Homo sapiens: one gene and its partners. The protein of the gene in region 6 purifies or fractionates together with the protein of the main gene of each other region. This does not show direct contact. Each region holds a gene or a part of one and is shown on either strand. Other genes may lie near its edges.

Evidence for each region.
Region 1: the proteins of PCDHA8 (region 6) and DDX21 purify together in Homo sapiens (co-immunoprecipitation; one large-scale study listed by IntAct). This does not show direct contact.
Region 2: the proteins of PCDHA8 (region 6) and RDH13 purify together in Homo sapiens (affinity purification with mass spectrometry; one large-scale study listed by BioGRID and IntAct). This does not show direct contact.
Region 3: the proteins of PCDHA8 (region 6) and GPR50 purify together in Homo sapiens (affinity purification with mass spectrometry; one large-scale study listed by BioGRID and IntAct). This does not show direct contact.
Region 4: the proteins of PCDHA8 (region 6) and BMPR1A purify together in Homo sapiens (affinity purification with mass spectrometry; one large-scale study listed by BioGRID and IntAct). This does not show direct contact.
Region 5: the proteins of PCDHA8 (region 6) and TMEM39A purify together in Homo sapiens (affinity purification with mass spectrometry; one large-scale study listed by BioGRID and IntAct). This does not show direct contact.
Region 7: the proteins of PCDHA8 (region 6) and SLC27A6 purify together in Homo sapiens (affinity purification with mass spectrometry; one large-scale study listed by BioGRID and IntAct). This does not show direct contact.

The regions. Positions count from the first base shown.
Region 1 is NC_000010.11:68,982,869-68,985,568, forward strand, and holds the end of DDX21 (nucleolar RNA helicase 2), read left to right. Parts: 3' UTR 1-2,200; downstream 2,201-2,700.
Region 2 is NC_000019.10:55,059,889-55,064,733, forward strand, and holds the start of RDH13 (retinol dehydrogenase 13 isoform 1 precursor), read right to left. Parts: upstream 3,261-4,845; 5' UTR 3,145-3,260; coding exon 3,080-3,144; intron 1-3,079. UniProt on the Homo sapiens protein: Retinol dehydrogenase with a clear preference for NADP. Oxidizes all-trans-retinol, but seems to reduce all-trans-retinal with much higher efficiency. Has no activity toward steroids.
Region 3 is NC_000023.11:151,175,084-151,179,731, forward strand, and holds the start of GPR50 (melatonin-related receptor), read left to right. Parts: upstream 1-1,500; 5' UTR 1,501-1,638; coding exon 1,639-1,825; intron 1,826-2,293; exon of another isoform or gene 2,294-2,753; intron 2,754-4,648. UniProt on the Homo sapiens protein: G protein-coupled receptor that plays a role in numerous physiological processes including regulation of energy metabolism, neurite outgrowth or cell migration.
Region 4 is NC_000010.11:86,885,352-86,889,462, forward strand, and holds part of BMPR1A (bone morphogenetic protein receptor type-1A isoform 3 precursor), read left to right. Parts: intron 1-4,111. UniProt on the Homo sapiens protein: On ligand binding, forms a receptor complex consisting of two type II and two type I transmembrane serine/threonine kinases.
Region 5 is NC_000003.12:119,456,854-119,460,964, forward strand, and holds part of TMEM39A (transmembrane protein 39A), read right to left. Parts: intron 1,388-4,111; coding exon 1,165-1,387; intron 1-1,164. UniProt on the Homo sapiens protein: Regulates autophagy by controlling the spatial distribution and levels of the intracellular phosphatidylinositol 4-phosphate (PtdIns(4)P) pools.
Region 6 is NC_000005.10:140,847,410-140,851,520, forward strand, and holds part of PCDHA8 (protocadherin alpha-8 isoform 1 precursor), read left to right. Parts: intron 1-972; exon of another isoform or gene 973-1,086; coding exon of another isoform or gene 1,087-3,615; exon of another isoform or gene 3,616-4,111. Other genes in the region: PCDHA9 (protocadherin alpha-9 isoform 1 precursor), read left to right, coding at 1,087-3,480.
Region 7 is NC_000005.10:128,985,591-128,989,701, forward strand, and holds part of SLC27A6 (long-chain fatty acid transport protein 6), read left to right. Parts: intron 1-3,009; coding exon 3,010-3,168; intron 3,169-4,111. UniProt on the Homo sapiens protein: Mediates the import of long-chain fatty acids (LCFA) into the cell by facilitating their transport at the plasma membrane.

The DNA of each region.
Region 1 (2,700 bases), on a different chromosome or scaffold from region 6:
GAACATTATTTTTCATGCAAAGTTAAAAGCACATTGTGCCTCCTTTTGACCACTTGCCAAGTCCCTGTCTCTTTCAGACACAGACAAGCTTCATTTAAATTATTTCATCTGATCATTATCATTTATAACTTTATTGTTACTTCTTCATCAGTTTTTCCTTTTGAAAGGTGTATGAATTCATTACATTTTTATTCTAATGTATTATCTGTAGATTAGAAGATAAAATCAAGCATGTATCTGCCTATACTTTGTGAGTTCACCTGTCTTTATACTCAAAAGTGTCCCTTAATAGTGTCCTTCCCTGAAATAAATACCTAAGGGAGTGTAACAGTCTCTGGAGGACCACTTTGAGCCTTTGGAAGTTAAGGTTTCCTCAGCCACCTGCCGAACAGTTTCTCATGTGGTCCTATTATTTGTCTACTGAGACTTAATACTGAGCAATGTTTTGAAACAAGATTTCAAACTAATCTGGGTTGTAATACAGTTTATACCAGTGTATGCTCTAGACTTGGAAGATGTAGTATGTTTGATGTGGATTACCTATACTTATGTTCGTTTTGATACATTTTTAGCTTCTCATTATAAGGTGATTCATGCTTTAGTGAATTCTTCATAGATAGTATATATAAAAGTACATTTTAATAGAAAGCCAGGGTTTTAAGGAATTTCACATGTATAAGGTGGCTCCATAGCTTTATTTGTAAGTAGGCTGGATAAATGGTGCTTAAATGGTAATGTACTCCACTTCTTCCTATTGGAAGATTAACATTATTTACCAAGAAGGACTTAAGGGAGTAGGGGGCGCAGATTAGCATTGCTCAAGAGTATGTAAAAAAAAAAAAAAAAAAAAAGAACCAAACCACTGGAAATAATCAAATGCAAAAAGGTAACAAATTCATAACTGGAAAGCAAAGAGAAGAACAAGTATGATTTGGATGATAAAGCATTGTTTTAATGGTGAAAACTTCACAGATCACTAATGTTTCTAGAGGTTAACTTCAAGTGGGCAAGCTGGGGTTTTTAGGTAGTCAGTGGCCTAGTTCCTAAAGCCACAGTATAGGATCTGTTAAACTGAATGTCTGTTGAAAGTTTGTTTTAGCTGCTTGGAGGCTTCCTTTTAAGACAAACTGTATGTGATTAAGTTGTTTTGAGGGAACTGAAGAACCTGATGTAGCCCCTGGCCAGATAACTGCCTGATTTCTCAGATATTATTTCTCTGGGAAACATTCTACATAGCACAGGAGCTTAAGAGTGGCATTATCTTCTCGCCTTAATTTCCAGAGATTATTTCTGTACTGAGAATCCTGGAACTACTATGCTAGGAAATTTAAAGCTGCATGGTCTGTCTTGTTTTCATTTAATTATTGTGAATACCTAGAATCTTTCTTGGTCCTGATTTCTCTTGCTTAATCCAGTCTTTATCTCTAACTGCCCCTTATTTGATCACCATGTACTAGGAGCTCTGATAGCCAGCTCAGCTCCTAATCCTTGAGGCAACATTCTTTTTCTATTTGAACTTCAGTTCTGTCCTTGAATCCCGACTAGATATTTCTTGCCCTCTGGTCTCAGAATTCTCTTGGCTTTTATTCCTTGATCCACTTGCCAGTTTTATCACTTTACCCTTGTTCCTCATGGCTTCCCATCAAGCCATGGGTATTAGGTGACAGTGTAATTTATTAGATTCTGGTTTTGCCCAAATACTGGGCATGCTTTAATAATAACTGAACCATTTCATTATTTGGATAGGCATGGGTACCTTATCAAGCAGATTAAAAGGATATGGTACCCGTCCTTTAGAAAAGAACAGCTAAAACCTTGTTGTGGATTATGGATTTAGCCTAAAGAAAAATAATCTGGCATAAATTAAGAGTAAGAGAGAAGATTAATAGAAATTTCACTTCACATAACTTAAAACATGGCTATTTCAATAAAGGACTAAAGTTTCTCCTGGATCCCAGAATTCAACCTGTATTTATAAATGTATAATGTATTTAGCTACTTTTTGGTTTAAATGAACTTGTTGGGTTAGCTTGGTAAATGTTATAATTTTTACTATTTTCTACAAAGAAAATATTTTCTAATTTAAGTTGGAGCTATCTGTGCAGCAGTTTCTCTACAGTTGTGCATAAATGTTTTTACTATAAAATGAGCTAATGTATAAAATACTGCTGTATACCATAATAAAGATAGTAATACTTGATTTTAGTGGCTTTTGTTTTCTAAAATGAAAATAGCTTGAAATATTTATTATAAAAATAATAAAAGCTAGATATAAAAATCTAAAGAGAAAAAAAACCAGTCACCCTTATCTAATATTTTAGTGAGCAGTCTTCCACATGTTCATTTATAAAATTGGAATTATTTGATTTTGTGTATTGCTTTTCCCCCCTCAACATGTTGTGCACAATTTTGTACAGGCTTACATGGACATTTTTGATGACATGTTTTCTTGTATGGATATGCCACTACACATTTAACCAGTACTCGATGTCCATGTTGGTTATTTCTAATTTTTCACCATTATAAACAACCCTAAAGTTAATATCCTCACATATGTGTTTGCATACTCGTCTGTCACCTTAGGATACGTTTTCTAAAGGTAGAACTACAGCTTTGAACTCCTAGGCTCAAGTGATCTTCCCTCTCAGCCTCCCAAGTAGCTGAGACTACAGGGGGGTACCACCAAACCTGGCTAATATT
Region 2 (4,845 bases), on a different chromosome or scaffold from region 6:
TAGGGCTGTGCAGGAAGTGCCTTGTTAACACAATGTTTCCAAGCAGTATACTTGGTAAAAGTCATCGCCAGTCTCTAGTCTCAATAAACCAGGGGCACGATGCACTGCAGAAAGCTGCAGGGACCTCTGCCCTTGAACACAGAGTATTGTCCAAGGTTTCTCCCCGTGGGATAGTCTGAAATATGGCCTCGTGGGATGAGAAAGACCTGACCGTCCCCCAGCCCAACACCCGTAAAGGGTCTGTGCTGAGGTGGATTGGTAAAAGAGGAAAGCCTCTTGCAGTTGAGAGAGAGGAAGGCCACTGTCTCCTGCCTGACCCTGGGAACTGAATGTCTCGGTATAAAACCTGATTGTACATTTGTTCAATTCTGAGACAGGAGAAAAGCCGCCCTATGGCGGGAGGCGAGACATGTTTACAGCAATGCTGCCTTGTTATTCTTTACTCCGCTGAGATGTTTGGGTGGAGAGAAACATCAATCTGGCCTACGTGCACGTCCAGGCATAGTACCTTCCCTTGAACTTAATTATGTCATAGATTCTTTTGCTCACATGGTTTTTGCTGACCTCATTATCACCCTGCTCTCCTACTACATTCCTTTTTGCTGAAATAATGAAGATAATAATCAGTAAAAACTGAGGGAACTCAGAGGCCGGTGCCGGTGCAGGTCCTTGGTATGCTGAGCGCCGGTCCCCTGGGCCCACTGTTGTTTCTCTATACTTTGTGTCTTATTTCTTTTCTCAGTCTCTCGTCCCACCCAACTAGAAATACCCACAGGTGTGGAGGGGCAGGCCACCCCTTCACAGGCGTGGTGGTGCACACCTGTAATCTCAGCTACTCAGGGGGCTGAGGCACGAGAATTGCTTGAACCTGGAAGGCGGAGGTTGCAGTGAGTCGAAATGGTGCCAGCCTGGGCAACAGAGCGAGACTCTGTCTCAAAAAAATTTAAATTTAAATTTAAAATGCCCGCTGCACGAGATTCCCAAGGCTGCTGTACGCATTACCACAGACTTAGTGGCTTAAAACCACATAAGTGCATCCTCCTCCAGTTCGGCAGGTCAAGAGTCCAAAACATGTCTCACTGGAATAAATCAAGGTATTGGTAGAGTCAGGTTCCTTCTGGAGGCTCTAGGGAAGAATCCACTTCCAGCTCCTACAGACCGCCACATTCCTCCACTCTTGGCCCCGCCTCCATCTTCAACCTGCATCCTCACTGGAACCTCTCCTTTATTTATTTATTTATTTACTTATTTATTTTTGAGACAGAGTCTCGCTCTGTCGCCCAGGCTGGAGTGCAGTGGCTCAATCTCAGCTCACTGTAACCTTCGCCTCACAGGTTCAAGCGATTCTCCTGCCTTAGCCTCCTGAGTGGCTGGGATTACAGGCACATGCCACCACACCTGGCTAATTTCTTTTGTATTTTTAGTAGAGACAGAGTTTTACCACGTTGGTCAGGCTGGTCTCGAACTCCTGACCTTGTGATCCGCCTGCCTTGGCCTCCCAAAGTGCTGCGATTACAGGCGTGAGCCACCACACCCAACAACCTCTCCTTCTATCTTCCATCTCCCCTCTGACTGAGCCTCCTGCTCCCTCTTATAAGGACCCTATAAGACTACAAGGCAGGACCGGCACAGTGCCTCACACCTGTAATCCCAGCACTTTGGGAGGCCAAGACAGGAGGATCACTTGAGGTCAGGAGTTCGAGACCAGCCATGGCCAACATGCTGACACCCCATCTCTACTAAAAATACAAAAATTAGCAGGGCTTGGTGGTGCACGCCTGTAGAGTCAGCTACTCGGGAGGCTGAAGTGGGAGGACCACCTGAGCCCAGGGAGGGTGAGGCTGCAGTGAGCTGTGACAGCATGACTGCACTCCAGCCTGGGTGACAGAGAGACCCTGTCTCCAAAAAAAAAAAAAGACTACATGATAATCATAAGATCCTTCACTTGGCCGGGCACGGTGGCTCACGCCTGTAACCCCAGCACTTTGGGAGGCCAAGGTGGCCAGATCCCCTTTGGTCGGGAGCTCAAGACCAGCCTGACCAACATGGAGAAACCTCGTCTCTACTAAAAATACAAAATTAGACAGGCGTGGTGGCACATGCCTGTAATCCCAGCTACTCAGGAGGCTGAGGCCGGACAATCGCTTGAACCCGGGAGGTGGAGGTTGTGGTGAGCCGAGGTCGTGCCATTGCACTCCAGCCTGGGCAACAACAGCGAAACTCTGTCTCAAAAAAAAAAAAGATGCTTCACTTAACACATCAGCGAGAACCTCTGACACGTGAGGTAATGTCGTCACACCTTCCGAGGATTAGGACGTGGACCCCTCTACGGAGTCACGACTCTGCCCACCACACCCATGTCCCACAGAGGCTAACGCTGGCAACAAGATAGTGTCCAGCAACAGGAGGCTGAGCAGGTAAACAGCACTGCACCCACAGGAGAGAAGGGCACCATGCAATACAGTGGCCACCAGCCACAGAGGCTAATTTTTAAGAAAGTTTAAATTAAGTAGGCTGGGCGAGGTGGCTCACGTCTGTAATCCCAGCACTTTGGAGGCCGAGGCAGGCGGATCACCTGAGGGCAGGTGTTTGAGACCAGCCTGGCCAACATGGCAAAACCCCGTCTCTGCGAAAAATACAAAAATTAGCCGGGCGTGGTGGCGCACGTGTGATCTCAGCTCCTGGGGACGCCAAGGTGGGAGGATCACCTGAGCCCAGGAGGTCAAGGCTGCAGTGAGCCAAGATCGCGCCACTGCACTCCAGCCTGGGCGACAGAGCCAGATTCTGCCTTTAAAAATAAACGAACAAATAAATAATACAAAACAACAAAATAAAGAGTTTAAAAGTCTGGAAGGAAAGCAACATTTACAAGGGCCCAGGCTCGCCCTTCCCTCCGAGTGACCTTGGGCCGGTGACCTGGCCGGCCAGAGCGCAGGTTTGCCCCACTCCGGGCGGGCACTGCGGGTCGGGAGCTACGGGGCCTGGACCCGGGTGCGAGGGGCGGGGGTCTCCGCCGCCTTCCCGGCCCCTGCGCTGGGGGCCCGCCTTGACCGCGCACGCGGGGCTAGAATGTACTCACTTGAGCAGCACGGCGGCGCCTGCTACCGTGCCCAGCGCCGACAGCGGCAGCAGGTAGCGGCTCATGCCGGGCCGGGGACAGGCGTCAGGCGTCAGGGGTCGGCGCGGAGCTTGCTGCACACCAGCCGCCTGGGTAGCTCCGAGGAAGAGCGCGCGACGCAGCCACAGGCGAGCGGAGGCGCAGGCGCGGCTGGGCCCGCGTCCGGAACTGGGCTGCGAGGGGCGGGGCGCGGGCGGAGGGGGCGGGGATCCTAGGGACGGGACCTATGAGCATCGGTCCTGAGCGCTGTCACAGCTGGGATTGGTGGTTTCAGGAGCCTGTGGGCGTGGCTAGTCCGGGGGCGGGGCCTATGGTTTGTTCGAATGACGTCACACTTGCCGCAGCGTATAAGGCGCTACGCAGTTCTGGAGTGAAATAGGTTCGAATCCCACCACTGTCAATTCCAGACTGTGACCCTCTGTGTGTCTTTCAACTATATCAGCCTATTCCCTCATCTGGAAATGTGTGTTTACCTTCTTCATAGACTTTTGGAGATAATTTGAGAATTTCCATGCACAGAAACAAGGATCTAGTAGCCTGTGGGTACCCAAGCTCCTGGGGTCCTGCAGGAGAAGGCGGCTGGGGGCCTGGACTCCTGGGTCTGAGGGAGGAGGGGCTGGGGGCCTGGACTCCTGGGTCCAAGGGAGGAGGGGCTGGGAGCATGGACTTCTGGGTCCGAGGGAGGAGGGCCGGGTGCCTGGACTGCTGAGTCTGAGGGAGGAGGGGCTGGGGGCCTGATTCATTCCCAAATTATCAGAATCTCATCCCCATGTCTGGCCCTGCACAGAGATATCTTCCCTGAACTCTGCCTGAACTACCTTTCTTAGATTGAGTATTGCACACACTCCTGCACTTACCTGTCCATGTTTGTCACCCCCACCAAACCGGGATGCACCTCTGGGCACCTGCTTCCCCTTGCACTGCTCACAGCGAGTGTATCTGATCACCACCTCCTACCCCTGACTGTGCCTGAGGTGCCAGGAGCAGACACCGCTGGAAACAGGGAAGAATTCAACCCAATCTAACTAGGAGTAAGTTTTCTTCCTCATCAGATGAACTGTCATCTTCTTATATGAGCCCTGCCATAATGGAGATTATACAGGCAGGAAGAGCTATTTTAAGACCTTAGTCAATGGCCGGGCACGGTGGCTCACGCCTGTAATCCCAGCACTTTGGGAGGCCGAGACAGATGGATCACGAGGTCAGGAGATTGATACCAGCCTGGCCAACATGGTGAAACCCTGTCTCTACTAAAAATACAAAAATTAGCTGGATGTGGTGGCACTCACCTGTAGTCCCAGCTACTCAGGAGGCCGAAGCAGGAGCATCACTTGAACTCGGGAGGTGGAGGTTGCAGTGAGCCGAGATTGCCCTACTGCATTCCAGCCTGGCGACAGAGTGAAATTCTGTCAAAAAAAAAAAAACCTTAGGCCTGTAGACCTTAAGCTCTCACCATCTCAAACGTATTAAACCAGTTACACAATGCCAAATGCTGTATAAGAGGCACTTGGAGGAGTCAAATTCATAGAGACAGAAAACAGAGTGGTGGCTGCAGGGGGCTGGAGATGAGATTGGGAAGTCACAGGATTTGTTTTTGTTTGTTTGTTTGTTTTGTTTTGTTTTTTGAGAGACAGTCTCACTGTGTCACCCAGGCTGGAGAGCAGTGGGCGATCTCAGCTCACTGCAACCTCTGCCTCCTAGGTTCAAGCGATTCTCCTGCCTCAGCC
Region 3 (4,648 bases), on a different chromosome or scaffold from region 6:
CCCGGGGCAAGAGGGCTGCTGTGTCCAGACGATGGCGCTCCCGGCCAGTGCAACCCCTCTCCCCTACTGTGGCAAGAAGACTAGTCTGGAACAAGTTTCAAGGTGTTTACTGAGATTTTGAAAGGCTTCTCGACAGGAGCCGTAACTTTTAGTAGCCGGCAGAAATCCATTCCCGTGACCAAGGTTATTGAGGGAACGAGTGTCCGAATCACGCCCCTTTAGTTTTGCCCGAATATTCGAATTTTCCGTGGTCCCCGCGGAGCGAGATCCTGGGCGCACCGCAGGGGAACTGTGACGCACGGGGACAGAGATCCGCGGTGTGGAGGGCGAGGGGGGAGGCCTGAGAGGGATGGGGTCGAAACGAGAACCCCAGAAGGGCATGGGAAAGGAGAAAGACCGAGAGGAATCCTGACTGAGGCAGGGATCGCCGGTCAGCCAGAGGCTTCTTGGTTTAGCCGCGTGACACCTCCGCACCTTTCCCGCGGCTGCGGCGCAGCTCCTTCAGCCTTCCTGACTGCCCCGTGCCGCTCAGTAGAGAATGCCGAGCATCCCGAGAGGGAGAGGCGTCAGAGCCTCTCGTCCTGAGTTTCCTTGAGAAGCGGGGACCCAAGAGAAGAGCTTTATTGCCTGTTTTACTTTTTCCCAAAGCGTCCCTTGGCTTCCGCCGCCTGGCTGCCGGCAGCTGGAAAGGAGACGAGCTCCCGCTCCCGTTCGCCCCCAAACTGAGGACCGAGTGGCCACCAATGCCTTCCCTAGGTCCCAGGGTGCAGACCCGCTCCCCACTTCCAGAGTCGGGCGCAGGGTACATCTCTTTATGGAGAGTGCAAGACCTGGACCGGACTGAGCGGCTACTCGCAGCTGCCGCTAAGGGAGCCAAGAGGCTCCTGGCGAGAAAGGGAGCGGGGTTAAGTTCCCTAGGGATTAGGGACCCAGATTGGGGGTGGGAGCTCCCAGCAGTAGTCCCCTGTTCCCCGCGGGACACAGAAGGCTCTAGACAGGCAAGGGCATGGGGCGTGGGATGGACCTCACAAGGATACTTGCAGAGGCAAGCATCTAGCGTTCAAGGGGCCACCGGCTATCCCCTATACCCTGCTGGGGGCTGTGGACTGGCTTGGTCTAGCACTGGATCCTATGAAAGACTCTGTGCTCCGGCTCTGCAATCTACATCTCTTTGCCAGGTGTTTGCACTGGAGGAGAGAGGGAGAAGAACTTGCTAGAAACGAATGCACAGGGGCTGGTGGAGGGGGTGTGGGGTGGACTCCGAGCTAGTCATGATGCTTGCAAGGTACCTGGGAGATTGAGAGGCAGGGCAGGCTGGCTAGAGAGGAAGTACATACAAGGCAGTCGGAAGCAAGATGACACCTCAATGTGGATTTGTCCAATAAGAGGGGGTAGCCAAGGGGGGGGTATTCAGGGAGGTCTGATTGGTCGGGGGGAGGGATTTGGGGTGGGGCTAGCCGCCTCTTGAGGCTTTAAAAGCTCATCGGAGAGGGGCGGGATGCTGTCATTTGCTCTCTGACTCTCAGAGAGGGAGGCACGCTTTCCTGGAGCTCCTGGTGACAGAACAGGTGTTTGCTGTCTGGACCTGGCTGCTGATCCTGAGCCTGCTGGGAGATCTTAACGATCCCCAGGAGCAACATGGGGCCCACCCTAGCGGTTCCCACCCCCTATGGCTGTATTGGCTGTAAGCTACCCCAGCCAGAATACCCACCGGCTCTAATCATCTTTATGTTCTGCGCGATGGTTATCACCATCGTTGTAGACCTAATCGGCAACTCCATGGTCATTTTGGCTGTGACGAAGAACAAGAAGCTCCGGAATTCTGGTAAGCCACCCCTTCTTCTCCCTACCCAGTGTGCAGAGACTTGCAACCCCTAGGGCGTTAGTTTTTGAGCTCCCCGAATAGAGAATCTATGGACAGTGCCCTCATATTGAACATCCCTGCTCCCAAATTCCCCGCAAGCCTGGGGGTGGTAGTATTCTGTCCCGGCCCTCTAAACGTGGAGGTTCTCAAGGCCGAGAGAGCACAGAGAATTAGCTTTGGGCATCCAAGTACAAAGCGTTCCCGTGGTGCGCGGCAGCCCGAGGATCCCTGTCCCGTCGGGGCCTGATGCGGAGGGAGCCGGCACCCGAGCGGGAGAGTCAGGCGATTCGCCCGGGGACAGCAAGCCGAGCCGGACGCCGCAAGGGCGGCCGCGCTGAGGCAGCGCGGACCGAACTGACGCGGAGGGAGCAGCGGGGCTGCGACCTGCTCTGTGAAAGTTAAGTTCGCGGCGGCCGCGGCGGCCCTTACCAGAGCGCAACGCAGTGGCCTCTCCCTAGCCGGGCCAAGAGCCCGCTCGCCGCGGCCCTGGGGCTCCAGGACGGCTCCCGGGCAGATCCCGGGCGGCGGAGCACAGACCCCCGCGCCCGAGAATCGAGCAGGGAGGTCTGAGCCCGCCGGAGCCGAGCTCCGTCCGCCCGTCCCAGGGCGAACGGCAGAGAGAGGCAAGCGGCGGGTCGGGCACAGCAGGCGGTGGCAGCGACGGCGGCGGCAGCGGAGATCCCAAGGTCCGTAAGCGGGGAACTGGGGGGTCGCAGGGCGGGCCGGCCAAGAGGCTTGGGAGCTGGGCGTTGCTGGGGGTGGAGGGATAGAAGGCAGCAAAACCGAGTAGGGATTGGCGGGAGGGCGACGGGAGAGCTCAGAGGCGGCGATGGGGGACTCAGAGAGGCTGCAAAGGGCTGGGGTCTGGGAGCCGCAGGCGGGACTTCCCCCGCTGCTAGCCACTGCCGAGCGGGAGGAGGCCGGGGGCCGGGGGCCGGCGGCGAGCAGGGCAGGAGGGAAGCGTGGGAGGATGCCGGGCGCTGCGACCTGTGCTGGGGGTGGGGGCGGCAGACACTGCAGAGCAGCTAGTCCGGCTTACAGGTTGGGCGGGAGAGGGCTCTGGAAGGGAGGGGAAGGGGCAAAGGCGCCCAAACTCCGAGTTCAGGCCGGGGGAGGGAGGGGCGGCGCCTGGAATTTCCACCGCCAGATTCTCGATCGGCTGGGGCTAGGAGTGGGGACCGAAGGGGGTCTGAGAGGGTGGGGAGACCAGCTGGATTCTCCCGGGCAGGGCGTGGGGGAGAGGTGGCGGCCGGGGTCTGGGGGATTACTTTGCTTGGGCAAGGAGTCACGAACACTGAACAAGTTTAAAAACGCACTGACTGGCACACAGTCATTAAAAGTTTTCTTACAAAGTCTGGTGGGTGTCTCCGATTTCTCCTTCGTCTCCTGGAATCGTGGGGCCATACACTAGGTCTTCACCTTCACCCCCGCGGTGCGGTCCCGAGGTGCAAACCCACGGAATCCTGGGGGCGACCTGCGAAGCCCATTTTATTCCCTTTAGATTTCTTTTCTTTCTTTTTCTCCTTCTCCTTCCTTCCTTCTATAATTCAAATAAAGGCTTTTATGGTTGTTGTGGTTTTGTTTTTAAGGCTTTGCCCCTTCTCTTTTCGGCTGTATTTCCCTGAATTCATTACTCTGCCGGAAAACCATAGAAAGAACCTCTTCGGTAGAAAGTGCTGAGGCCGAGTGCTGACAGCGCTGGAGGAAGGAGGAAGAAGGAGCCATACCTTTGCCCTTTTCAAAAGCGCTCATTTTCTCCTAGTCCAAGATGAAGTGCAATATTTTGCCAAACCAATGCTAATTAGCAACGAGGTGTCTCCAAAGAAAGAGGGCTCTGCGCCTGCACCTGGCCTCTTCCTTCTCTTTTTTGTGAAAGGTTTTACAAAAAAGTTCCCACCTCAGCCCTACAAGACCGGAGTGGGGGTGACCCTTCTTCTCTATCCTGTTTAACCTGAAGGCTCCAGTAAAGTTCAGTGCCCGGCGCTGGGAGCTCTGTGCAGGGCGCTGAATGTGCCAGTGCGCGGCTCTGCGCGTGGACGTGGACGCGGCATGTAACTGAAACAGGCACTTCTGCTAATCCTTGCAGGATTTTTTCTCCTCCCCCCCACCCCCGCCCACCTCGCGCCACCCTTCCCGCCCGCCCTCTCACTACTTCTTTGGTCTCAGACTAAATTTTACAGGGCTTCCCTGCTTCCCCTCAGTTTTCACTCTTAGGTTACCTCGGAACGGTAAGTATTTGACTTGGCAAGGTTTTAGGTTACTGCTTGATCCCATCGGAAAAGACTGTTTAAGAAGATGGCCTCTAATGCCTTTTCTCAGAATCTTCTCTCTAGTAATGTGTTTATTATAAATGCAATGCTAGGCTATAGGAGGGAGATGGCTAATTTATCTTTTTCTAATTATTTAATTATTTTTAATTTTTTTAGTTTGAGGCTTCCTGACATCCCTCCAGTGTCTCTCCTTGCCCCCCACTCTCCAGCCTCCTTCCTAAAAACAAGTCCCTCTAGCTCACCTCTACTCCCCTCCTCCTTCTCCCTCCCCCTCACCTCCAGTGAAGGAAACGTTTGCATTTTGTTTTTCTCTAAGATGGTGGCAGCATGACCCTGTCTCATTGTGAAGGCTCCTGGCAGGGATTTTGTGCTCACTGCTGTCTGTCTTATGTTCGCTTCTTTCTCAGAGCATTTCTTTAAAAGAATTCTGGAATTATAAAAGGTCATAATCCAGCTGGCCTTCCCCTGCACCTTAAATGTGTAGATTTCTGTACTTAAACCACTTATTCTTCTC
Region 4 (4,111 bases), on a different chromosome or scaffold from region 6:
TTTGCATTGTGTCGGCAGAATTGAATAGTTGTGACAGAGACCTTGGGGCCCACAAAACCAATACCTGTTTTCTATATCTCTGCTGTCTTGTGTGATAGCTACTAGCCAAATGTGGCTTTTGAGCACTTGAGTTGTGACTAGTGTGGGTGAGAAACTGATTTTTAATTTTACTTCATTTTAATTCGTCTACATTTTAAGTCACATGTGGCTAGTGGCTACCATATGGGACAGCACAGTTGTAGACATGCCACCTTTTCCCTAGTTCTTGCTTCCTTGTACTTGACTTTCCTTCTGCTGATGTCTTCCTGGTTTCTATTTAATTAATGATGCAGACTGTTGTTGCAGAATTCATTAGGCTACCATTGCTGATTATCTCATATGTATAGTGCATCAGTAGCCCATTGGTCTCACCAACCGTTTGCCATCTGAGTTCTGTTGTAGACATTCTATCTTAAGGTTGCGGCAGAGGGCATTTATTTGCTGTAGAAAAAGGAAGCCAATAAATTATTGGGAAAATATGAAAAATTACTTAGCCAGGAATAAAAATCTAGTAAAATCATTGATGCCAAAAATTGCTGTTGATGACAAGGACCTGTAAATGTGCCTGTGTATGGTCATGTGTCTCTTGTAACTGTTTGTCTCTTTGTATGTATATGTTTTCATTTTTTCCTGAGATGTTATACTTAAACATGTAAGCTATTAAATATTTTGTGTGTGTTTGTTTTGAAATATAACCTATACCCCCAGTCCACCCCAGGGCTCGTAGTTTATTCTTTGTAAATACACGGGACTTGTGGGTGGCGAGAGATTGACATGTTCAGAACTGACAGAAGGCCATGTGCCAAGTAAAGTGATGATGGTGAGGCCTGCAGGACCCAGATCCTGTTGGGCCCTGGGAGCACACAGTGGAGGTTGGATTTTATTCTGAGTGCATTGTGGAGCCATTGATTGGTTTTATATAGGAGTGACAGATTTGTGTTTATAAAATGTCTCTGGCTGCTCTGTGGAAAATGGATTGCAGGGACCAAGAGCAGAAGCAGAGGGAACAGTTGGAGACTTCTTACCTTAGTAGAGGCATGATGTGATGGGCCTTGGTGACAACAGCGGAGTTGGAGAAAAATGAAAACAATTGACATACATTTTGGAGGTTGAGCCAAAAGACTTTGGTAAGACCAGGTTTGAGGCAAATCAAGAGTTCATTTAAGACAAGTCAGTCAGGAGATGTCTAAGCAGGTCATGGCTAGAGGGGGTACATCCAGGAACCATCAACAGAGTGGGCGCTGTCCCCTAGGGAGAGCACAGAGAGGCTCTTTCCTGTTACTTTTCTTTGTATTCAATATCTGCTTGGTGAAATCTTGCAAGTTTTTAAGATGTAGCTTAGATTTCATTACTTTTGACACCTAAGATCAGTTTGAGTTTGACACCTAGGATGAGCCTTTTCCTTTGTTTACATGTAAACACCTCCGTATTTTGTCACTTTTTTTTTTTTTTTTTTTTGAGATGGATTTTCGCTCTTGTCGCCCAGGCTGAAGTGCAATGGCTTGATCTCTGTTCACTGCAACCTCCACCTCCCAGGTCAAGTGATTGTCCTGCCTCAGCCACCTGAATACTGGGATTACAGGCGCCTTGCCACCACGCCCAGCTAATTTTTTAATATTTTTAGTAGAGACGGGGTTTCACCATGTTGACCAGGCTGGTCTTGAACTCCTGACCTCAGGTGATGTGCCCACTTTGGCCTCCCAAAGTGCTGGGATTACAGGCGTGAGCCACCGCGCCTGGCCTTTGTATTTTGTCACTTTTCACATTGTATTTATTTGCTTTTGTGCTTATTCCCCCTCTGCTTTCCACCAAGTTTCTCAAGGCCACATATGTGGTTTTGATGCCACATCTTTGCGTTTCTAGCATTTAATACCTTGCCTGCACATAATAGACCCCTACTAAGTATTCTGTTGAATATTTGGCAATAACATAAGCTCCAGATACAACTACTGTAATTGAGTTTTTTGTCTCATGAATTCAAATAGTATTCTAGGAAGTTTCATATAACTTTGAGTTTTTTCATGTATCAGTGATCTTTTAGTGTTCTGATCTTTGTTATTAGTAACATCTTCATTTGTATACTATTTTACATGTAGTTAAGCACTTTAGTAAATATTCATTTGATCTACCTATAACCTCTTGATTTGAATTAGGCAGGAATTATTATCCCCATTTTCTATAGATAGCTGAGGTTCAGAGAGTAACTTATCTGTGCCCGTAACTGCGACTTGAACCCTTCACTTCTTGCTGTTATCTCAAGTGATATTTCTGCCACACTAAACTGCTTTTTCTGTGTCACTAGATTTTTGAAAAATCAGTTGCTGTGATATATTATATACTGTTTGTTTTCCAGAGCTGAATTGATACGTGTCTTCTGTTAATGTAATAGGATTTTAAAGCTGGTCAGGTTCCCTCACCTGTCCTCTAGTCCTGTAGCCTTATAGAGTAAATGAAGCCTGGAAAGGTGACATGGCTTGCCCAAGACCATCCAGCTAGGTAAAGCGGGGTAGGCCCATGGCAAAACAGAATCCCAGTCTCCTCATTTCCTGCTCAGTGGATTTCTTCCCTTCCTGTACCTCCTGCTTCCCCCACCCCATCTTTTACAGTTGATGTTTCTAACATAAAGGAGGTCTTTCCGCTTTGTAGCAATCAGATCCAACGGAAGCCTTGACATTATATTACGGAATTTATTTCTGAAAGGAGAGTGGTGTGGGGGGCGCGGGGATGAGTAATATATGTATGTACACAAACTTCCAGCTTTTTTTTTTTTTTTTTAAGTGTTTTCTCTCCTGGCCGGGCACGGTGGCTCATGCCTGTAATCCCAGCACTTTGGGAGACTGAGGCAAGTGGATCACTTGAGGTCAGGAGTTTGAGACCAGCCTGGCCAACATGGTGAAACCCTGTCTCTACCAACAAAATACAAAAAAATTAGCTAGGCGTTGTGTGGGGTGCCTGTAATCCCAGCTACTCGGGAGTCTGAGGCAGGAGAATTGCTTGAACCTGGGAGGCGGAGGTTGCAGTGAGTCGAGATTGCACCAGTGCACTCCAGCTTGGGTGACAGAGTGAGACTCTATCTCAAATAAAAATGTTCTCTATACTCATTCAGTAGCAAATTCTTTTACTAAATATTCGGTATAAGAAAGTGAAGGTTATTGGCCAGGCATAGTGGCTCACGGCTATATTCCCAGCACTTCGGGAGGCTGAGGCGGGAGGATCGCTTGAGCCCAGGAGTTCAAGACCAACCTGAGCAGTATAGGGAGACCTTGTCCCTACAAAGAATTTAAAAATTAGCCGGGCATGGTGGCATGTGCCCTTGGTCCCAGCTACTCCAGAGGCTGAGGTGGGAGGATCACTTGAGCCTGGGAGGTTGAGGCTGCAGTGAGCTCTGATCACATCACTGTACTCCAGCCTGGGCAATAGCGTGAGACCATGTCTCAAAAAAAAAAAAAAAAAAAGTGAAAATTATTGAAACTGAAGGCATGTAATCATCAAAACACTATTTAGCAGCACTTTTTCTGTTACCTGTGTGTGCATATGTGATATTTTTTGTCTTTTCAGTAGTTTATCTCATCAGTATGGTAAATGTAAAATCAAGTCTGTGTTGTGTCTTGAACCACTTATTTAACATTCATAATGAAATACATATACACTTGTCTGTTTGGTTCCACCTTTCATTCCCTTGAGAGTAACCCACAAAGAATGGCCTAGCTGAGTCAGAGAGAGGAAGTAATTACTAGAACAGTTTTTTTAGTTCCGTTCTGCTTCCAGCCTGAAAGATTTAGTACCAAATATGACAGTATCTGTCACTGCAGGCTGCTAGACTCTAGTGTAAGAACATAGTTCTATTTCTGTGAGCTAACTGCTGCCCTTCTATAACCTTCAGTTTCTGCCAGCATCGTCTGCATTCAAACCAATGACCTCGAGGTGAAAATCTCCAGATAACATGATTGGTCCCCATGCTCTCATGATTTCCTTACTTAAGCAATTAAAGGCCAAAGCAAGATGCTTAGTAACTCCTTTTCCACATAGAGGCACAAATAAAGGAAAGCTGGTCACAAGTTTTGAACCAAAG
Region 5 (4,111 bases), on a different chromosome or scaffold from region 6:
CCTTCACCTCCCAAAGTGCTGGGATTATAGGCATAAGCCACCATGCCCAGGCCTTACCAATATTTTTTTATATACCCATCTATGGTGAACCTTCTCTGCATCAAGACTATCATGGTACTCTTTTTTTTTTTTTTTGAGACAGAGTCTCGCTCTGTCGCCCAGGCTGGAGTGCAGCGGCTCGATTTCGGCTCACTGCAAGCTCCACCTCCCGGGTTCATGCCATTCTCCGGCCTCAGCCTCCCAAGTAGCTGGGACTACAGGCGCCTGCCATCACACACGGTTAATTTTTTATATTTTTAATGGAGACAGGGTTTCACCGTGTTAGCCAGGATGGTCTCGATCTCTTAACTTCGTGATCCGCCCGCATTAGCCTCCCAAAGTGCTGGGATTACAGGCGTGAGCCACCGCGCCCGGCCTATCATGGTACTCTTAATAAATGGAAAGAGAACAGAAGAAACCTACAATATATTTTTATGTACTTCAGCAAAGACAGCCAATTTCTCAATTTCACTTCCCAATTTCCCAATTTGATTTAAGTTCACTATGTACCCAGCTAAAGGACTATATTTAGCTTCTCTTGTAATTAGGAGTGGACATGTGTGGAAATGATGTAAGCCTGGCCCATAAGAAACTGTCCTTTACATTGCCCTAAGCTCTTTCCCCTTCTGGCTGACAGGGATGGGCCACAGCCACCTTGGAGGTCACATGTTGGAAGACAGTAGAATCTCCATCAGCCTGGGTCCCCTGAAGAACTCCTGGCAACCAGGACAACTGCCTCAGAGTTTATTTGTTACAGAAGCTACCACTATCCTAATTCAGCCATTAAAAGGGTAGAGTTGTTAGAATGTAGTAACACTGACACCTTATACTTACAAATTTAAAATGGTGTAGAGAAAACTAAATACCAAAACCTTTCCGTGATATTATTATAAAAAATTATTTAAATGTTTTCTGCATTTTCATTTATATTTTTACTTCCTCTGGTAGTACTTATAATTTAACCATCTTATCATGAAATTTTATTTCTGAAAGTAATCTGTGGCCTAGCAGAAAAACATTTTATTAAAAGAAAAATTATTAAGAAAAACAATTTCTACAGAAAGGCTTTCCAGGTAGTTTCTTGGGTAAGTAACATGAAGAACTTAAAGTCTGAGTAAGACTTACCAGTGATGTACAAGAAGCAGGATGATTGTAAGGATACCACCACACTGTTTTATAAATGTTGATGTACTGAATGAAAAGAGCAACCAACAGGTAGATGAAAAAAAGGAATTCAAAGAGTAGGCTCCCATCCACAGGCAAGTCAGGAATTTGGCAATGACGAACAGGACCTGGGGTGATTAAGGCTGTGATAGGTGGGACTGGAAGGCCAATAGCACTACCATTCCTGAAAGAGAAAACTATGGTTAACTCAAATGGTGATAACCTCCAGTATCACAGAACATAAAGGGCTCCTGCTGTCTCCTCCATCTACCCCTTCACTGTCTGCTTTCCCCACAAGACTCCATCCTGGGATCCTCTTTTCTCCCTCCACACTTTCTGTCAGTGATCTAAGATGCAGCTATGGCCTCCATTATCTCCTACATGATGAAGACTATAATTTCTCTCCATAGAGCTCACTGCTAAATTATAGACACATTATTCAACTCCCTACTGGACATCTCTGTGTTCTTCCCTCCTATAGTCCTGACCTTAGTTCATGGCCCACTCAGTTAGCTGCCCACATCAGAAACCTGGGAGTCATATTAAAACTTTTCTTGGCCAGGCGTGGTGGCTCACACCTGTAATCCCAGCACTTTGGGAGGCCGAGGCGGGCGGAACACCTGAGGTCAGGAGTTCAAGACCAGCCTGGCCAACATGATGAAATCTCATCCCTACTAAAAATACAAAAATTAGCCAGGCATGGTGGTGGACACCTGTAATTCCAGCTACTTGGGAGGCTGAGGCAGGAGAATCGCTTGAACTTAGGAGGCGGAGGTTGTGGTGAGCTGAGGTAGCACCATTGCACTACAGCCTGGGCAACAAGAGTGAAACTCCATCTCAAAAACAAAACCAAAAAAAGAATATAAAAATAGATTTAAGAATCTATTCAGAACCCATATAAATTCTCTAGCAATGAGTTGTGACAACACATGTGAAGTGCTACTCATCCAGGAAAGCTCATTAGAGACTTGATGCCCAGGGTTTTTATTGGGGGCTGGCCACATGGGCACCTTCTTTCTAGCAGTACCAAAATTCTAGACTCCCAAAAAGAATGCAGGTGTTCAACATAGCTACTCTTAGGAAGGCCTGCTTACAAGGCTTACATCTGGGAACCATGACTAGTAAACAGTTCCCTACAGTGATATAAACTTTCCCTAAATAACTAGAGTGGCTCACTGTGCCTAAACTGTTTATACAAACAATGTGGTTTATGCTGAACACCTGTGTTTTGTCCTTGCATATAAAGTTTGTGTGTGGCAAAGGGTTAACACAGCAGGCCTGAGACTGACTGGTATGGAGCCAGCAAGCAGCAGAATTTAGGGAAGCAAATGGATGAAAGAAGAAAGATTCAAAGGCATAAAGAGGAATAGAAGAGGTAGGGAAAGCAGTGGTCATTTGGACACGTTCAGGTGATATTATTAACAAAGTATATGCAAGGAATAAGCAAAGAAAACAATAGTTCTTCTCAAATAAGATTCTCCCTCAATCAGGAACTCTCTAAGAAATCCAGAAATACACAATATATCTTCCTTTTTTAAAAGGATAATACTTTAAATACACTGTTGCAAGAACAAATCCCTGCTCCCCAAAGGTGGACAGCAGGACAAGGAACTACAATTTCAACCTTGACTGTGTTACCAAACTAGCTCCTTGACATTCTAGAGTTTAACTTCACCAATCAGACCACAAGCACCTACCAAACAGGGACAAATTCTCTCCTCTCCAGCTGACCTATGTCTGTCTTGCAGAATCAAATGTATCATCCAAAAGTATGTAATACTGAAGCAATTATCTATTTCCCTCCAATACTCTATAGACACTCCAGAAGTGAGTTCTCCTCATCTGGACACTCCTTCTTTCTATATATCCTTCCTAAAACTATATTATAAGCTATCCGCTAGTTCTTTCATGTTTTCATACCTCGTCCCCAGGTCTTTTATAACAAATTATTCCAGCTGCTTGCTTCCCACCAAGAAAGAAATATAAAGCTTTCTTTTCCCCAAATAATTTCTCTAGGTAAACATGTCACAAATAATCACTCAATAATAGTCTTGGTGACTTTTCAAACCATAAACAATTATTTCTTTCATTTTAAAATGTTGGAAAATACTTTTTTCTACCCACTCCCTCCCTCCCCCCAGTTAATTGCTAAATAAACATATGTTAAAGGAGGAGAGAAAGGCAGATTAAAGCAACCATGGTTGGAACCTTGAATACCAGGATAGAAGAGCTACAGTGAAGGCAGAGAAAAGAATACCAAACCCAGTCAAGAGCCGAGGTATTTTCCGAACGTTCCTACTTCTTCCCAGTATACCATCTGCAGACTCTAAGTGCAAGCAGAAGCATCTACAAATGACATTTTCATTGGCTTTCAGTTCTTTTTAATAGCAGAACGCTTTATTTTCCTTTCCTCATGATATTTTACATAGTATCTTAATATTTAAAACACATAGGAAAATGAGTCAGTCTAATTAAAAGAAGACGAGGAAAACTCAAGCCTAGACTGTTAGGCTTGCCTGATCCATTTTCCCTTCTAAGCCCTCCTACAGCAACCCCTGAGACACTGAAGAGGGATTTCATGGGACAGTCTAAGAACATTTTTATCTAGAGAACATAATTATCTAGAGGAATCCTCAAAGCCAAAGTCAAAGAGAACGAACAAAGAACTGCTAGAGTTAGGAGGCAAAGTTAGAATTTTTTAGTTGGCTAGAATCCTAGTTAGGGACAGCTAAGATTTTCTATCACAATTTGAAAGTACTGAATCAATAAGTTGATAGCATATATTAATAAAATTAAGGCATGTACCTCAAAGAGCAAACAACTTTTATCTCAATACCTATATTAGATAGTACCTTTCTTCAAAAGCATTTTCGCATATTCTCATTCTTATTTTTAAGTATATAAAATA
Region 6 (4,111 bases):
CACGGTTTTGCCTTTAGACTTGAGATACACTAAAATCTAGATTTAATTAATCGACTTGGACGTTGGAATAAGATAGTAAAACTCACAACAAAACTTTGTAGAACTTAGTCAGGAAAAGAATCTCAAGCATAGCTTTAAAAACAGAAATTGCCCCGAGTACTAAGGATGAGCAATAATGAAATTAAAACATATTGTAATAACATTACACAAACTATATTGGAGACTACAAAGAAGAGATTATTCATAGATTATAAAGCTTGGAAAGAATCAAAACAACACATTTCTGGAAACAGATTGTATAAATGCTACAAAAGAGAAAAATATATTTTCTCCCCACGCAACACAAGACCTTAAAGTCAATTCTCGCTTTTCTTGCAATATTTTATACCTTTTCAATTCATAGAATTACTCAAGAAAACTACCTCAGTTGGTTGCTACTTTTTGTTGATTCCTTTTACCAGACATGACTAAGTTTCTTTTTCATCAGTAGATTTCTGGGCTCCTATATTCACTAGAGATTGCAACTCCTGGATTTCTCTTACACTAGAATCCTATTTCGAGCCATATGGGAGATTCTGAATTCCAGAACAAAAGAATTTTGTAATTTAAAATTCGTGATTGCTCAATGGAATCATTTTAATTGTTACTTCATTTCTGTCGTTATTTAAAACTTAAGTGGAGAGTTTTCTCAGGGATAAGAAAACCACAATCAAGGTCATACAAAACTTTTAGAGGCAGTCAGTCTGCTAAGAAGGCTCCAGCAAGAGAAACGGGATCTTCTGTTTCAACAATCATTACTTAAGAAAAAATTAAGAAAATGAAATAAGTTTTGCAGAATAACTGTGAAATTTTTATTCATGAAATATGTACTTACACTTTGGGCCACGTGATGTCACTCTTTGCCGCGATGTTCTCTCTGAATCCAGACAAATACAGCCCTTTTCCCATGGGAAAGAGGCTCAATTCTTTTTCACTCTCTCTGTGCTGAACGATGGCGAACACAGCAGAATGGGACTGACGAAATCAGATGATTTCTTCTAATTTGGAGGCAATTTTCACTAATTAGAAGAAGACTGAGTATTTGAAATGTTATACTCAAGTCGAGGAGATCCAGAGGGTCAGCCTCTACTGCTCTCGCTTCTGATCCTCGCAATGTGGGTGGTGGGGAGCGGCCAGCTCCACTACTCCGTCCCGGAGGAAGCCGAACACGGCACCTTCGTGGGCCGCATCGCGCAGGACCTGGGGCTGGAGCTGGCGGAGCTGGTGCCGCGCCTGTTCCAGTTGGATTCCAAAGGCCGCGGGGACCTTCTGGAGGTAAATCTGCAGAATGGCATTTTGTTTGTGAATTCTCGGATCGACCGCGAGGAGCTGTGCGGGCGGAGCGCGGAGTGCAGCATCCACCTGGAGGTGATCGTAGACAGGCCGCTGCAGGTTTTCCATGTGGACGTGGAGGTGAAGGACATTAACGACAACCCTCCAGTGTTCCCAGCGACACAAAAGAATCTGTTCATCGCGGAATCCAGGCCGCTTGACTCTCGGTTTCCACTAGAGGGCGCGTCCGATGCAGATATCGGGGAGAACGCCCTGCTCACTTACAGACTGAGCCCCAATGAGTATTTCTTCCTGGACGTGCCAACCAGCAACCAGCAGGTAAAACCTCTTGGACTTGTATTACGGAAACTTTTAGACAGAGAAGAAACTCCGGAGCTTCATTTATTGCTCACGGCCACCGATGGAGGCAAACCCGAGCTGACTGGCACCGTTCAATTACTCATCACGGTACTGGACAACAATGACAATGCCCCAGTGTTCGACAGAACCCTGTATACGGTGAAATTACCAGAAAACGTTTCTATCGGAACGCTGGTGATTCACCCCAATGCCTCAGATTTAGACGAAGGCTTGAATGGGGATATTATTTACTCCTTCTCCAGTGATGTTTCTCCAGATATAAAATCCAAGTTCCACATGGACCCCTTAAGTGGGGCAATCACAGTGATAGGACATATGGATTTTGAAGAAAGTAGAGCACACAAGATCCCAGTCGAGGCTGTCGATAAAGGCTTCCCACCCCTGGCTGGTCATTGTACACTTCTTGTGGAAGTTGTGGATGTAAATGACAATGCTCCACAGTTGACTATCAAAACGCTCTCGGTTCCTGTAAAAGAGGACGCACAACTGGGGACAGTTATTGCCCTGATTAGTGTGATCGACCTAGACGCAGATGCCAACGGGCAGGTTACCTGCTCCCTGACGCCCCACGTCCCCTTCAAGCTGGTGTCCACCTACAAGAATTACTACTCGTTGGTGCTGGACAGAGCTCTGGACCGCGAGAGTGTGTCCGCCTACGAGCTGGTGGTTACCGCGCGGGACGGGGGCTCGCCTTCACTGTGGGCCACGGCCAGGGTGTCTGTGGAGGTGGCCGACGTGAACGACAACGCACCAGCGTTCGCGCAGTCCGAGTACACGGTGTTCGTGAAGGAGAACAACCCGCCGGGCTGCCACATCTTCACGGTGTCTGCGCGGGACGCTGACGCGCAGGAGAACGCCCTGGTGTCCTACTCGCTGGTGGAGCGGCGGTTGGGCGAGCGCTCGCTGTCGAGCTACGTGTCAGTGCACGCGGAGAGCGGCAAGGTGTACGCGCTGCAGCCGTTGGACCACGAGGAGCTGGAGCTGCTACAGTTCCAGGTGAGCGCGCGCGACGCGGGCGTGCCGCCTCTGGGCAGCAACGTGACGCTGCAGGTGTTCGTGCTGGACGAGAACGACAATGCGCCGGCGCTGCTGACACCTCGGATGAGGGGCACTGACGGCGCAGTGAGCGAGATGGTGCTGCGGTCGGTGGGCGCCGGCGTAGTGGTGGGGAAGGTGCGCGCAGTGGACGCCGACTCGGGCTACAACGCGTGGCTTTCATACGAGCTGCAGCCAGAAACGGCCAGCGCGAGCATCCCGTTCCGCGTGGGGCTGTACACGGGCGAGATCAGCACAACGCGTGCCCTGGACGAAACGGACGCACCGCGCCAGCGCCTACTGGTGCTGGTGAAAGACCACGGGGAGCCAGCGCTGACGGCCACGGCCACTGTGCTGGTGTCGCTGGTGGAGAGCGGCCAGGCGCCAAAGTCATCGTCGCGGGCGTCAGTGGGTGCCACGGGCCCCGAGGTGACGCTGGTGGATGTCAACGTGTACCTGATCATCGCCATCTGCGCGGTGTCTAGCCTGTTGGTTCTCACGCTGCTGCTGTACACTGTGCTGCGGTGCTCGGCGATGCCCACCGAGGGCGAGTGCGCGCCTGGCAAGCCGACGCTGGTGTGTTCTAGCGCGGTGGGGAGTTGGTCGTACTCGCAGCAGAGGAGGCAGAGGGTGTGCTCTGGCGAGGGTAAGCAGAAGACCGACCTCATGGCCTTCAGCCCGGGCCTTTCTCCTTGTGCTGGATCTACAGAGCGAACGGGAGAACCCTCTGCTTCCTCAGATTCAACTGGGAAGGTGGGTTTTTCTAGCATTTTATTTATTTATATAATTTTTTTTCTTGAAAGATATTATCGATTACTCCCAGGGGCCGTTCAAATAGTTTTATTCATTTTTCTAGAAATCCAGCAGATTTTTTTTCTGATAAAGTAAACCCCTTAACATTGGAGCCGACTTTGTCTTGACTTCTAGTGAGAATTATAAACTGTATATTAAATAGATATTTTTTGGGTGCTGAATCAATTTTATTTAAATTTGTGATTAAAGTGACATTGAATTTCTGATGCTATGCTGCCATAACACTTGAAAACCAATTTAGTTGTTAGTCATTCATTAAACATTAACATCACTATCATTTATTTATTGCTAAATGATGCATAGTATTTTAGTCTACTTGTATTGTTTATAAGAAACCCAAGCAAAAATATATAGCAATTGTTACCTTGTTAAGTTTGTAGTTCTCTACATTTCTCTGGATGGAGACTGTGAACATCTGATTGTTCAGCAACCTTCAGTATCTATTATTTTAATAAGAAAGAAACTTCCCCTAAACTTTAGAAAACAGTTGCTCCACTTTAGGAATCAAATTATGTCAATAAATGTTATAAACACAGCCTTCATTTCAACTTATATAAAATATGTTTTAAAA
Region 7 (4,111 bases), about 12 Mb from region 6:
AGGGCATGGGAGTATCCAAACACCTTGATCCAGTCTCATTGCTCAGTGTATGATACTTGATACTTGATTTTTTGGGCAAGATCTTTGTTAGCTTCTCTGATCCTCAAATTTCTGATATCTAAAATGAAGAAATTAGTTTAAATAGTTTCTACTGATTCTTTTGGATTTAAAAAGTGTTTTAATGTACTTGAAAACAGTTCTCTATATTCCTGTGTAAATTATTAAATCCTAAACATAATCCAGGTATACCGGCAATTTAAGCACCTGTTGCTGGCTCTCCTGATTTTGGTCAGGGTAATTGAATCATGTGACAAACAGGAACTCTTGAAGGCACTGCAGGTTTGGACTAAGATACAAAATAAAATCAAGTAAATAAGCTTTATTTTAAGTAAACAACAGCAATAACAATAATAAAACTGCCTGAGAATTCAAAAGAAGGGCCTGGCACAGTGACTACTCACACCTGTAATCACACACTTTGGAGGCCAAGGCAGGAGGATTACTTGAGGCCAAGTGTTTGAGACCAGCCTAGGCAACACAGTGAGACCTCATATGTACAAAAAAATTAAAAAAAATAGCCAGATGTGGTGGCATGCACCTGTAGTACCAGCTACTCAGGAGGCTGAGGCAGTTGAATCATTCTATCCCAGAAGTTCGGGGTTATAGTGAGCTGATTGCACCTCTGCACTCCAGCCTGGGCAACAGAGTGAGACTCAGTCTTAAGAAAGAAAAGAAAGAGAATTCAAAAGAAATGTTAAACTTAATTGATTTCTAGGAAAAACTGAATGGTATTAATGGTAGCCTAAATAGGCTTTCATTATTAGTTTGAAAATGATTGTTGATTTGACTTAGACATATTAAGAGTATTGTTACTCATTTCTTGTGCATAGGTTGTGAGCAACTATTGCATAGTAAAATTTTTCTTACATTTTAAAAATCTATTCAGTTCCTAATTGTAATCCCTTTTAGACTGGAGAATATAATTTTTTTTTACATGATTAGAACAGTTTTGATAAATGAACTGAAAAGTGCTAATATGTGTGTGGCTACTCTGTCCAGACTGAGGGAGCTTCTTTCTCAGATTGTTCAGGCTACCTAATCAGGTCTATTGAATAATAACAGGTCTAGAAGTTGGCAGATTGAACAGATACACAGTCCCTTAGGACAAAAGGAATGGAACTAGAGATGACAGCTACAAAATTTTAGAAAAGGAGGTGATGACTGAGTGTGGTGGCAGACACCGCAGACCCAAGAAGCTGAAGCTTATGGTGAAGCCTTGAAGAAAATTCATTTGCCCCCACCAAACCCCAGAAAGGCTCAGAAATTGGGTACCAGGTACCTCAAAGAGTAGAAAATAAATGTGAAACTATAAGCAGGAAACTTTATGGGAAGTTTGTTTAAGAAGGAACTATAGTCCTGGATTGCTTCTTCCACCCTGATAGAAGTCCTGAGACGTAATTCTGGAAAAGATGAACTTCTGAAAATACCAGGAAGAACAGAGGTTTAAAAAGTAGGGGATATAAAAGAAAGTCTCCCTCCCTATAAATATGTATATATGTATATAGATAGATATACATATATGTATATGTTCTCTTTAATATATATAACTTCTTTTAATACTTGACTGTTTTAATCTTTGAGATTCTTGTCTGAGGAATCTGAATAGCCCACATGTAAAAATTGAAAGACACTGATCATGATGGATTCCCCCAACAGAATGTCCTGGACAGTGAAACCAACTAGTAAATAAGTATTCTTCAGACACAGAGATTCTAGTTAATATTTTGTTTGTTTATTTTGTGTTTTTGTGTCTGCACTTTTAAATATAAACTGATAGTCAGTAGTCTCCAGATATTTGAAAAAAATCCTCCTGAATATATTCTAGATTAGATTGAGACCAATACAAACGAAAGATAAAAAGGATGTTGGAGAAAACTGACAAGATAGAGAGGAGAAATTTTCAAAAAATTATTATTGTTAATATTCTGAAAGATGGGGACAAAAAAGTGTCAATAATATAAAAATAACATACTACAAAAAGAGGAATATTCAGAGAACATAATTGTTGGAAAATCTCTCAAAAAGTAAAGCAAAAGGTAAGAGAAGGAAAACAGGATAGGCAACATTAGGAAACCAGTGATTCTGTCCAGGAGGGCTGATCTTCAGAAAATCAAGAGTTCTAAAAATGAAAGGATGAACACACAAATAAATGTAACAGAAAAAAGCAATGGGCAAAAAGAACAGAAATAAGGAAGGAAAGAGAAGAATGGGGTGTGAAAATTATTTTGTTTTCAAATTCAAAAATATCTAGAACTATAAGACCTGAGTTGTTAGACTGAAAAAGCCTAAAAATTTCCCAGCGAAATGGATAGATGAGACTGGTCCCAGTAAAAGTCATCATGATATTACAGACTACTGAAAACAAATAGAAGATTCCAAAAATGAAAAAAAATAGAAATACCATGTTGCATCCAAAGGATAAGAAATCAGAAAGACTGATAATTGCTCAATATATATACTGGAAGTCAGAAGATTATAGAGCAATGCCTTCAAAGTCCTGCGTAAAAATGACTACTTACCTAGAATTCTTTACAAGCAGCCATTCAAGTGTATAGGTGGCAAAAAAAGACATTTTCAGGCACATAAGGACTGACAAAAACTTACCTCCCAAATGCTCTTTATCAGATAGCTACTGAAACCAAATGTGTGCTACCACTGTAATTAATTTCTAGAATCTTAGATCTATCCAGAAAGGCCAACGATAAAATTACATAGCGTTTGAGATACAGGCCTACTTAGCAGCCTGTCAAAGGAGCGTTGCTAAAGTCAGAATGGCCTCTTTTACAAAGCAGATAGACTACTTTGATATATTTTCTGTCAATTGCTAGTGTAGTTGTTATCAGTATCATCTTCTTTCTGTTACTTCCTTTCTAGTTATATGAATATGTATGCATATGTATATGTATGTATGTGTGTATATATATTTCCTGTTCTTTTCTTTTCTTCCAGGTCTACCAAAAGCAGCTGTGATTAGTCAGCTGCAGGTTTTAAGGGGTTCTGCTGTCCTGTGGGCTTTTGGTTGTACTGCTCATGACATTGTTTATATAACCCTTCCTCTGTATCATAGTTCAGCAGCTATCCTGGGAATTTCTGGATGTGTTGAGTTGGGTAAGGCTTTATTTTCTTTTTGATAAGTTTTCAAAATGTCTAATAATTAGAACAAGTATTTATTAACATTTGAAGCTGTATCGGTAGAATTTAGAGTGATTATATGCATATTATTTTATTATAACACAATATTTATTTTAAAAAAACTACACAATTTTATGGCATATTCAGTGTTTTCCTGAGGTGAAAAGAACAGTTTTCTGAGGATTTGGCCATGTGGTCGGAGCTGGCTATTGGCTGGGCTTCTCTCTCCTTGTAGTCACTCACCCTCAAACAAACTACCCCAGATTCCTCAAATGTAGTAGAAATGTTCCAAGGGAGTGAGTATGGAAGCTGCATAAATCTTAAGGCCTAGTCTTGAAAGACACATAGGTTATTTTACCTTCATTCCATTGATCAAAGTAAGTCATGGGCCAGCCTAGATTCAAGATTCCAGGGCTGGAGAAACAGAAGCCACCTCTTGAAGGGAGAAGGAGCAAATTTACACTGCAAAAGTAAGAGCCCTGAAGAAATTGCTGAGGCCATCTTTGCGAACAGTCTGCCATAGACACTCAATAAATTAGTTGGTAGAGCTTGTGACTCAGTAGATTCCATTCATAAACATGCAAGATTATGTGTCAGTTTCTAGACCTCACATAATATACAAACAGTGGAGATCATTTGCTACTTGTATTTGTCTAAAATGCTGTAATTTTTAGAATAGAATATTTAGAATATGATCAATATCCACCATAAATGAAGATGAGATATTAAAAGACATTAAAATCTTCAGTGGACATACATTGTTGTCAAAATTAGGTTCTGCAGTCATTTAAGAACTTTTTTGTTAGTACTATCTTGCTAATTCAACCTTACTAACAGTTGACCTCAAGATATGTTGAGGTGGCCGGGCGCAGTGGCTCATGCCTGTAATCCCAGCACTTTGGGAGGCTGAGGCAGGTGG